Linked DNA regions of Homo sapiens. The protein of the gene in region 1 purifies or fractionates together with the protein of each later gene. This does not show direct contact. Each region holds a gene or a part of one and is shown in the gene's direction. Other genes may lie near its edges.

Region 1 (3,657 bases):
CCTCAGCCCCGTGAGTAGCTGGAACCACAGGCATGTGCCACCACACCCAGCTATTTTTTGTAGAAAGAGGATCTTGCCATGTTGCCTAGGCTGATCTTGAACTCCTAGGCTGAAGCTATCTGCCTGCCTTGGCCTCCCAAAGTGCTGGGATTACAGGTGTGAGCCACCGTAGAAAGGTTTTAAGAGAAAATTTAACCCATCATTATTCTACCTAAGCCTGGAGAATAATAGGAAATTTTTTTTTTCCCCTATGAAAACCATTAGACTCATTCTGGTAACACTTCCTTATACTAACATAATCATTTGATGACTCTTTTCAAGTAAACAATTTAGGTTTCGAGTTCTGCAGACTGGACTCAAATAAAGGGCAATACTTTAAAGGAAGTTAAAAGTACTTAGTTCTAATCGTTGATGAATGTGATGTGACATTTGCCCCTTACTGGTTAAAAAAATAGTGCTTCGTAGATTGATCATGATGGATTTGCATTACTCTTGCATATTGCTAGTGACTTGGTAGACCCTTAATAAGTGCTTATTGATTGGCTGATCACTATGATCACAGATATTTTCATCAGCTCTACTAGTCTTTATCTTGCGTCTTATAATAATAATGATAGATAATCTGTTGACTACTTGCTAAGTAGTGTGATAAGTAATTTATATGTACCATATTTTAAGGTAGGAGGATGCAGTTTACATTTTGAGAATTTTTTGTAGTTGTCTCTGTTGATTATACTTTTACAGGCTTCTGATCATTTCTTTGTCTTTTTAAGACTATTTTGAGTGACTATTTTTGATCAAATGTAAGACACTTTGATGCTGGTGCTTCCTTGATCTTTCCAGGAGGAATCAACTGAACGTTTTCACCAACGACATCCCACTGTTGGATGACAGTAGTTGTAAGATACACCTCTATTTCAGCGTCCATACTTCAGAAAGGTTAAAAGTGTTGTTGTTGTTAAAAGCATCTGAAAGTTGATGAAAAAGGAACATTAGTTTGTTTACTTACTGCAGTGCAGCCTTGCTTTTTAGGATATAAACCACTCACGTGTTCTTTGTTGCCTGAATGGATTTCAGTGTAGTATTTCCACTTCTCAGAATTCTTGTTTTGTTCTGCTTTTTTTTTTTTTTTTTTTTTTTTTGGTAGGTCTCTTCATTTCAGGGTAAGCTTCAGATGTGATTTAATTTAGTTCAATAGTAAAGAATGCTGGAAAGATAATTTGTAATTTTATTTTTCCATTTTAAAACTTAAGATGGGTTATGCCATCTATAATACTGGTTAAAAATATTAGTTTGATGAATGTGCATCTTAATAAATGTACATTCCTGTGTAACTTGATCCCTCTCAATGTGTATAAATAGTATGAGTAGATTCAAGTACATCATCCCTTGATGTATGTAGATCCAAGTTTAGAAAGGTATTTATTTATTTTTTTGACACAGAGTCTTGCTCTGTTGCCCAGGCTGGAGTGCAGTGGTGCAATCACGGCTCACTGTGGCCTTTACCGGCAGGTCTCATGTGACTATCAAGTGAATTACTATCAAAAATAGAGGTTCAAAATAATCTTAAAAAGACAAAGACTTGCTAGCCTGTAGAAGTGTAAAGTATAGTTAATGGAAACAATTACAAAAAATTCTCAAAATATAATCTGCATCCTTCCACCTTAAAAGATGGTACATATACATTATTAATACTTATACCTTACTTATTAAGTAGTCAATAGATTTAGTGACATTCGTATGTCTGGGATGTCAGTGAACTCACAACAATTTATTTGCAAAAGGAACTCTAGCCAATTAGTGTCCTCAGCCAGCAATGTACAGAGAATCATATTTTGTTTGTTGGTGAAACCATTCCTTTCTAAATCATGTCTGCTTTTGGGGGTTGATTTGCTTATTACTTTATTGTTAACTGTTATCTCTTTGTTTGCTCTCATTATGCCTGCCCATAGTAGTCTCCTCTTTATAATTTGATGTTTTCAGTGTGCTGTGGGAACAGAACCCCATACAGTACTTGCTGAATGGTGGATAAAAATGACAGCATGTTCTTCTGGGTGAGGAACCAGAAGACTTTCTGTGCATGGAGCTTTAGTGCTAGGGACTTGTTGTTTTTTACTGCTTAGAGGACTCGTGCTTTTTTTCTGGTTTTTGACTCTGTTTTGGCTAAGTGATGCTTCTGGATAGCCGAGGATGGTATAACAGGATGGTAGATGCTACCCTGTGGATGTTTAACTTCCTCTGAATAATAAACCTCTAAAAATTGTCTTGTTAAGTCTAACTCAAGTGGATGGAGAAGAACTGTTTTTCCTGTTAGAATGACTTGCTAGTCTACTTCTTGTAAGAACCATCAAAACCCTAAGCATGTATACTAGGATACTTAGATCTACTGGTATATTGTTACAATGTAAGTCAAAGAGCAGATATTAAAAGTCTTAAAGCACTATGAGATTGCTTGTAAAATAGCCAGATGTGTCTGTTACCTAAATATTTTTGTTTAAACTGGATCTTAATCTGTTTTCTTTGAGGTAAAATTATCTTTATAGATGCATTTTTCTGTATTTGTGTTGATACAATTTAGACCATGTCTTGTATGTAATATTCCTGATACTACTGAACCCTTAATATACTTTCAGTAAATACTAGTTACAGTTTGTCATGCATTTTTTCATTGTTTCACCTTTTCCTGCCTTAGAGTTAATGTTTTTGGAGCTAGAATGTCCTTAGGAATGATACAGTAGAATTTCTGCATTTTATAGATGAGAATGAGACTGTGACTTGTTTAGAATTGTTCTTTTTCTGCAGATGTAGATTTGAAAGGAAATAACAAAAAACAAACAAAAAAAGAACTGTGCTTTGATTCTTAGTTTAGTATTTTTCCTGTTCTAACATTTTTCCTGTTCTAATGTTCTTCCCAAGGTAAAAATTTTAAGGGAGGGATAGTAGCTTGGAATTTTGTAGCCTCTGTAACAGAAGTCTGCAAAAATTTTATTTCAGCAGTATAAAAAATTGAGTCTTCATTCCCAATATGTGTATGCTTATTTATTGTAAACTATATACTATAAATTATGTTCATAATAAGACATTAACCCGGGCGTGGTGGCTCACACCTGTAATTCCAGCACTTTGGGAGGCTGAGGCGGGCAGATCACCTGAGGTTGCGAGTTCGAGACCAGCTCAACCAACATGGAGAAACCCCATCTCTACTAAAAATACAAAATTAGCCAGGCGTGGTAGTGCATGCCTGTAATCCCAGCTACACAGGAGGCTGAGGCAGGAGAATCACTTGAATCCGGGAGGCGGAGGTTGCGGTGAGCCGAGATTGCACCATTGCACTCCAAACTGGGCAACAAGAGCGAAACTCTGTCTCAAAAAAATAAAAAATAAATAAAAAATAAAAAAGACATTAACAAAAAAATGTGATAAGGATGAAAAACATTTTCAAATAATTTAAAATATATTAGTTCCATGTTTTTGATCCTACTTAAAATATTAGTAATTTGTAAAATAAGAAAAATGTGATTGAATATCATCACTTAAACATTTTTTTTTAAATTTTGAAGTATTTATAGACTCATGGGAAGTTGCGAGAATAGTACAGGGAGTCCTGTGTCACCTTCATTCAGCTTCTCCCAGTTGTAACATCTTACATAAGATAAC
Region 2 (3,657 bases), on another chromosome or scaffold:
GAGGCAGAAAAATTGCTCGAACCCAGGAGGCAGAGGTTGCAGTGAGCCAAGATTGCACCACTGCACTCCAGCCTGGGCGACAGATTGAGACTCCAGCTCAAAAACTAACTAACTAACTAAATAAATAAAATTGACCACATTGATCAAATTCTGTAGCACACAGGTGACGGTCCCTGTATGGAATACTTACTCTTCCCTCAGGATTCCTCTGATATTCCATGTGACACATGACTCTCTGGCATATGGTAAAAGTGGAGATGTTAAGTTGTTCTGTATATTAAATGTTAGTGAAGCCTGGTTTCTTTCCTTTCTGGAAATAAAATACAAACATAATGAACATTTACATATTTTCTTAAATTACTGCACTTTGGAGGGCATAACCTTATACCATGTCCTAGTTTGAAGTAAAAAAGTTCACAAATTCTTGAGTCTACCGTAGCATTTAAAACCTTACTAGTCTAGGTAAAGGTAGAGGAATGGGATTTAAGGTAATTCTGCAAAATTCTCTATACTTCTGTAACTGTGCATAAGTTAATTTTAAAGAACATAAATAAGAATCTAGTAAGCAGTCAATTTATTTAAAAGTAATTAATATTGTAATTATTTCATAGTTCAGAACCATTTGAAGTTCAAATTTTGTTTTTTCAAGGACCCAATAGGAAAAAGGTGTATTGAAGTTCAGACTTTTAAAACAAATTCAGACTAGTCTTCTTCATTAATGGTTCAAGATAATGAACCTTTAGTGTGTTTTCATTACTTTGAGGTATTAACTTTTTCCCCTGTGCTTCTTAAGCAATAGGAGTGAAACATCCACATCTGATAACACAGAAACTTACCAAGAGAATACAAGGTAAGCTTTTGAAAAATCCTGCCACTTTAGCAAGTAATATTATATTTATCACTTATCAAATAGCTTTTTAAATTAAACTTTTTTTTTTTTTTTTTGAGACGGAGTCTCACTTTGTTTTCCCAGGCTGGAGTGCAGTGGTGCGATCTTGGCTCACTGCAACCTGCGCCTCTCAGGTTCAAGTGATTCTCCTGCCTCAGCCTCCCAAGTATCTGGTATTACAGGTGCCTGCCACCACGCCCGGCTAATTTTTGTATTTTTAGTAGAAACAGGGTTTCACCATGTTGGCCAGGCTGGTCTCGAACTCCTGACCTCAGATAATCCACCTGCCTTGGCCTCCCAAAGTGCTGGGATTACAGGCATGAGCCACTGCGCCTGGCCATAAATTAAACTTAAAAAAAAAAAAAAAATCAGTTACATCATTAGGCATAGTGTTTGAAGTTAGCAGTTTAGAAATAGAAAATGCAGTTACTGCTTTTAAGAATCACATTAGGTTAGAAGAGTTTAGTTATTCTCTTTCACTGTGGTCAGGTTTCTTCCACACACGATTCAGGTAAAGTTGTCTGTGTTGAACTGTCCCTTCCTGAAATTCAGAAGTATTAAAACTCAGTGATGCTTGATCCTCAGAATGTTTTCGAGTATTTCATTCTCATGATCAGTGCTTTTGTTTTTTCTTTTCCTTTGAATTTTGGATGTTGGATTCCTAGGGCCTGGTATTTATTAGAGATACGATATTGATGGAAGTCTTTTAGAAGTTTTAAGTTCCTAGATAAAAGGTTTGCAAAATGTGGAATACTACAGAATATTAAAAATTTTCAAGGGACATACAGTGACAGCTATTGGCATCAGAAAACAACTACAATTAAGTTTGGACCTAACTACATAATATATGGAGTCAGCTAGGTTTTTGTTTTTGTTTTTGTTTTGGCCTAGAGGTGCCATGAAAAAATTTATTGAGGACACTAAGAGTACTGTAAACTGAGATTGGGAACCTCTGTAATGCATCATTTCCTGAATACATATGTTCAAAATGAGAGAATCTTTGAATAGTCTAATAATTATAACTTTTTTAAAAAATGTATAGTGATTCCTCAAAAAATAGGAGAGCGTTATTTTTGTGTTATTCTGAATTAAGTATGTTTCACTTAAAATTGTTTTATAGTTCTTCTGGTCATCCTACTTTTAAGTGTCCCCTGTGTCAAGAATCAAATTTTACCAGACAGCGTTTACTGGATCACTGTAACAGTAATCACCTATTTCAGATAGTTCCTGTGGTAAGTACATACGTTTGAGACAGTCTTCTGCTTAGAATAAAACATGCTGTTCTATTTATTTCACTTCATGTATGCAAGAGAAAGTAGTTGATTTATATTTGGTTGGGGCATTATCAGTAAGGTAGATTTTTGTCAACAAAGGATTGATGACTGTGAAGCAAAATGAGATATTTAAAATTGCAGTAACTCTCATTATAAAAAGGGAGATGCATAGTGTGAGGTAATATAGCACAGTCTGGAGAAGAGTGAAGTAATGAAAGATGAACCGGGAACTCATTCCTGCGCAGTAGCACAACCTGTCTATTGAGGCCTCAGTTACTTGCTCTGTAGATGGCAGACAAGTAGATCTAGTCAGGTAGATTGCTGTAGGTGAAAATACCTGTAAGTAAGAATAAAGTCAGTAGGTATTTTTATTGTTTTCTTGCAGCATATAGTATGTGAATGCATAAAGCAAGGAAGGAAAAGACTTAGACTTTGTATTTGATGCCTACATATTTTTTGACATTTTGAGGGTATGTAAGAAAATGGTGAGAGCTTTTTGATAATGAGGGAGATAGAGCAGAATTCAGGATTCCAACATATAATGATCCTAGAAGTGTTTCATAGGTAAGTTATTTCAGCTGTGAATGGAACAGGAGAAACTGAGCTGGGAGAGAGATTTCCCTTTCAGCTGAACATTTTGATATATAAATAATTGTCTTCAGAAAGGAGAATAGGAAGGAAAATGTTATCAATAAGAACTGTAGATATTTCTAAGCTGTTTTAGTGAGTATGCTAGGAAAAGTTGTGAAAGAATGTGCTTCAGGACCGGGCACGGTGGCTCATGCCTGTAATTTAGCACTTTGGGAGGCCGAGAGGGGAGGATTGCTTGAGCCCAGGAGTTCGAGACTAGCCTGGGCAACATAGTGAGACCCTGTCTATTTAAAAATAAAGAAAATAAAAAGAATATGCTTCAATAACCATTGAGGATGACCTTAAGCTCTCACATACCACCTAAGAAGGTGTACTACCTACTTTGCTTATTAGAATGGGTTCAGTTATGCTTAAATAGACAAATACAGTGCCAAAGATGTTCCAGGAAATCTCGCTCATATTTAAGATTTTACTTAGTTTTATATTGGATTACCAAATTTTTATTCATTTCTGCATAATATTCGATATATCATAAACTTTGGCTAGAGTTTAATTACTGAAGGTTTTTTGTGTGTTATTTCAGTTATTTATCCATTCAGTTTTTAAGATGTACTTCATTTAAACGTAAGGATATGGCTGGGTGTGGTGGCACATGCCTTTAATCCCAGCACTTTGGGAGGCCAAGGCGGGAGGATTGCTTGAGCTCAGGAATTTGAGACCCAGCCTGGACAACAGTGAGACTGTGTCTCTAGTTTTAAGAAAAGAAAAGAAAAACTAAGGATACAATTTAAAGTAAATTTTCCAGTTTACTTCATTTTTATTTTACTTACAAATGAAATAAAACTAATAATAATTATATGGTTATTGTATGGATCAAATGAGATAATATATTGGATATGTTGC

Evidence for each region.
Region 2: the proteins of FRYL (region 1) and RNF138 purify together in Homo sapiens (affinity purification with mass spectrometry; 2 studies listed by BioGRID and IntAct, with this or other methods). This does not show direct contact.

Annotation. Positions count from the first base shown.
Region 1 is NC_000004.12:48,770,165-48,773,821, reverse strand, and holds part of FRYL (protein furry homolog-like), read left to right. Parts: intron 1-3,657. UniProt on the Homo sapiens protein: Plays a key role in maintaining the integrity of polarized cell extensions during morphogenesis, regulates the actin cytoskeleton and plays a key role in patterning sensory neuron dendritic fields by promoting avoidance between homologous dendrites as well as by limiting dendritic branching.
Region 2 is NC_000018.10:32,122,725-32,126,381, forward strand, and holds part of RNF138 (E3 ubiquitin-protein ligase RNF138), read left to right. Parts: intron 1-793; coding exon 794-850; intron 851-2,009; coding exon 2,010-2,121; intron 2,122-3,657. UniProt on the Homo sapiens protein: E3 ubiquitin-protein ligase involved in DNA damage response by promoting DNA resection and homologous recombination.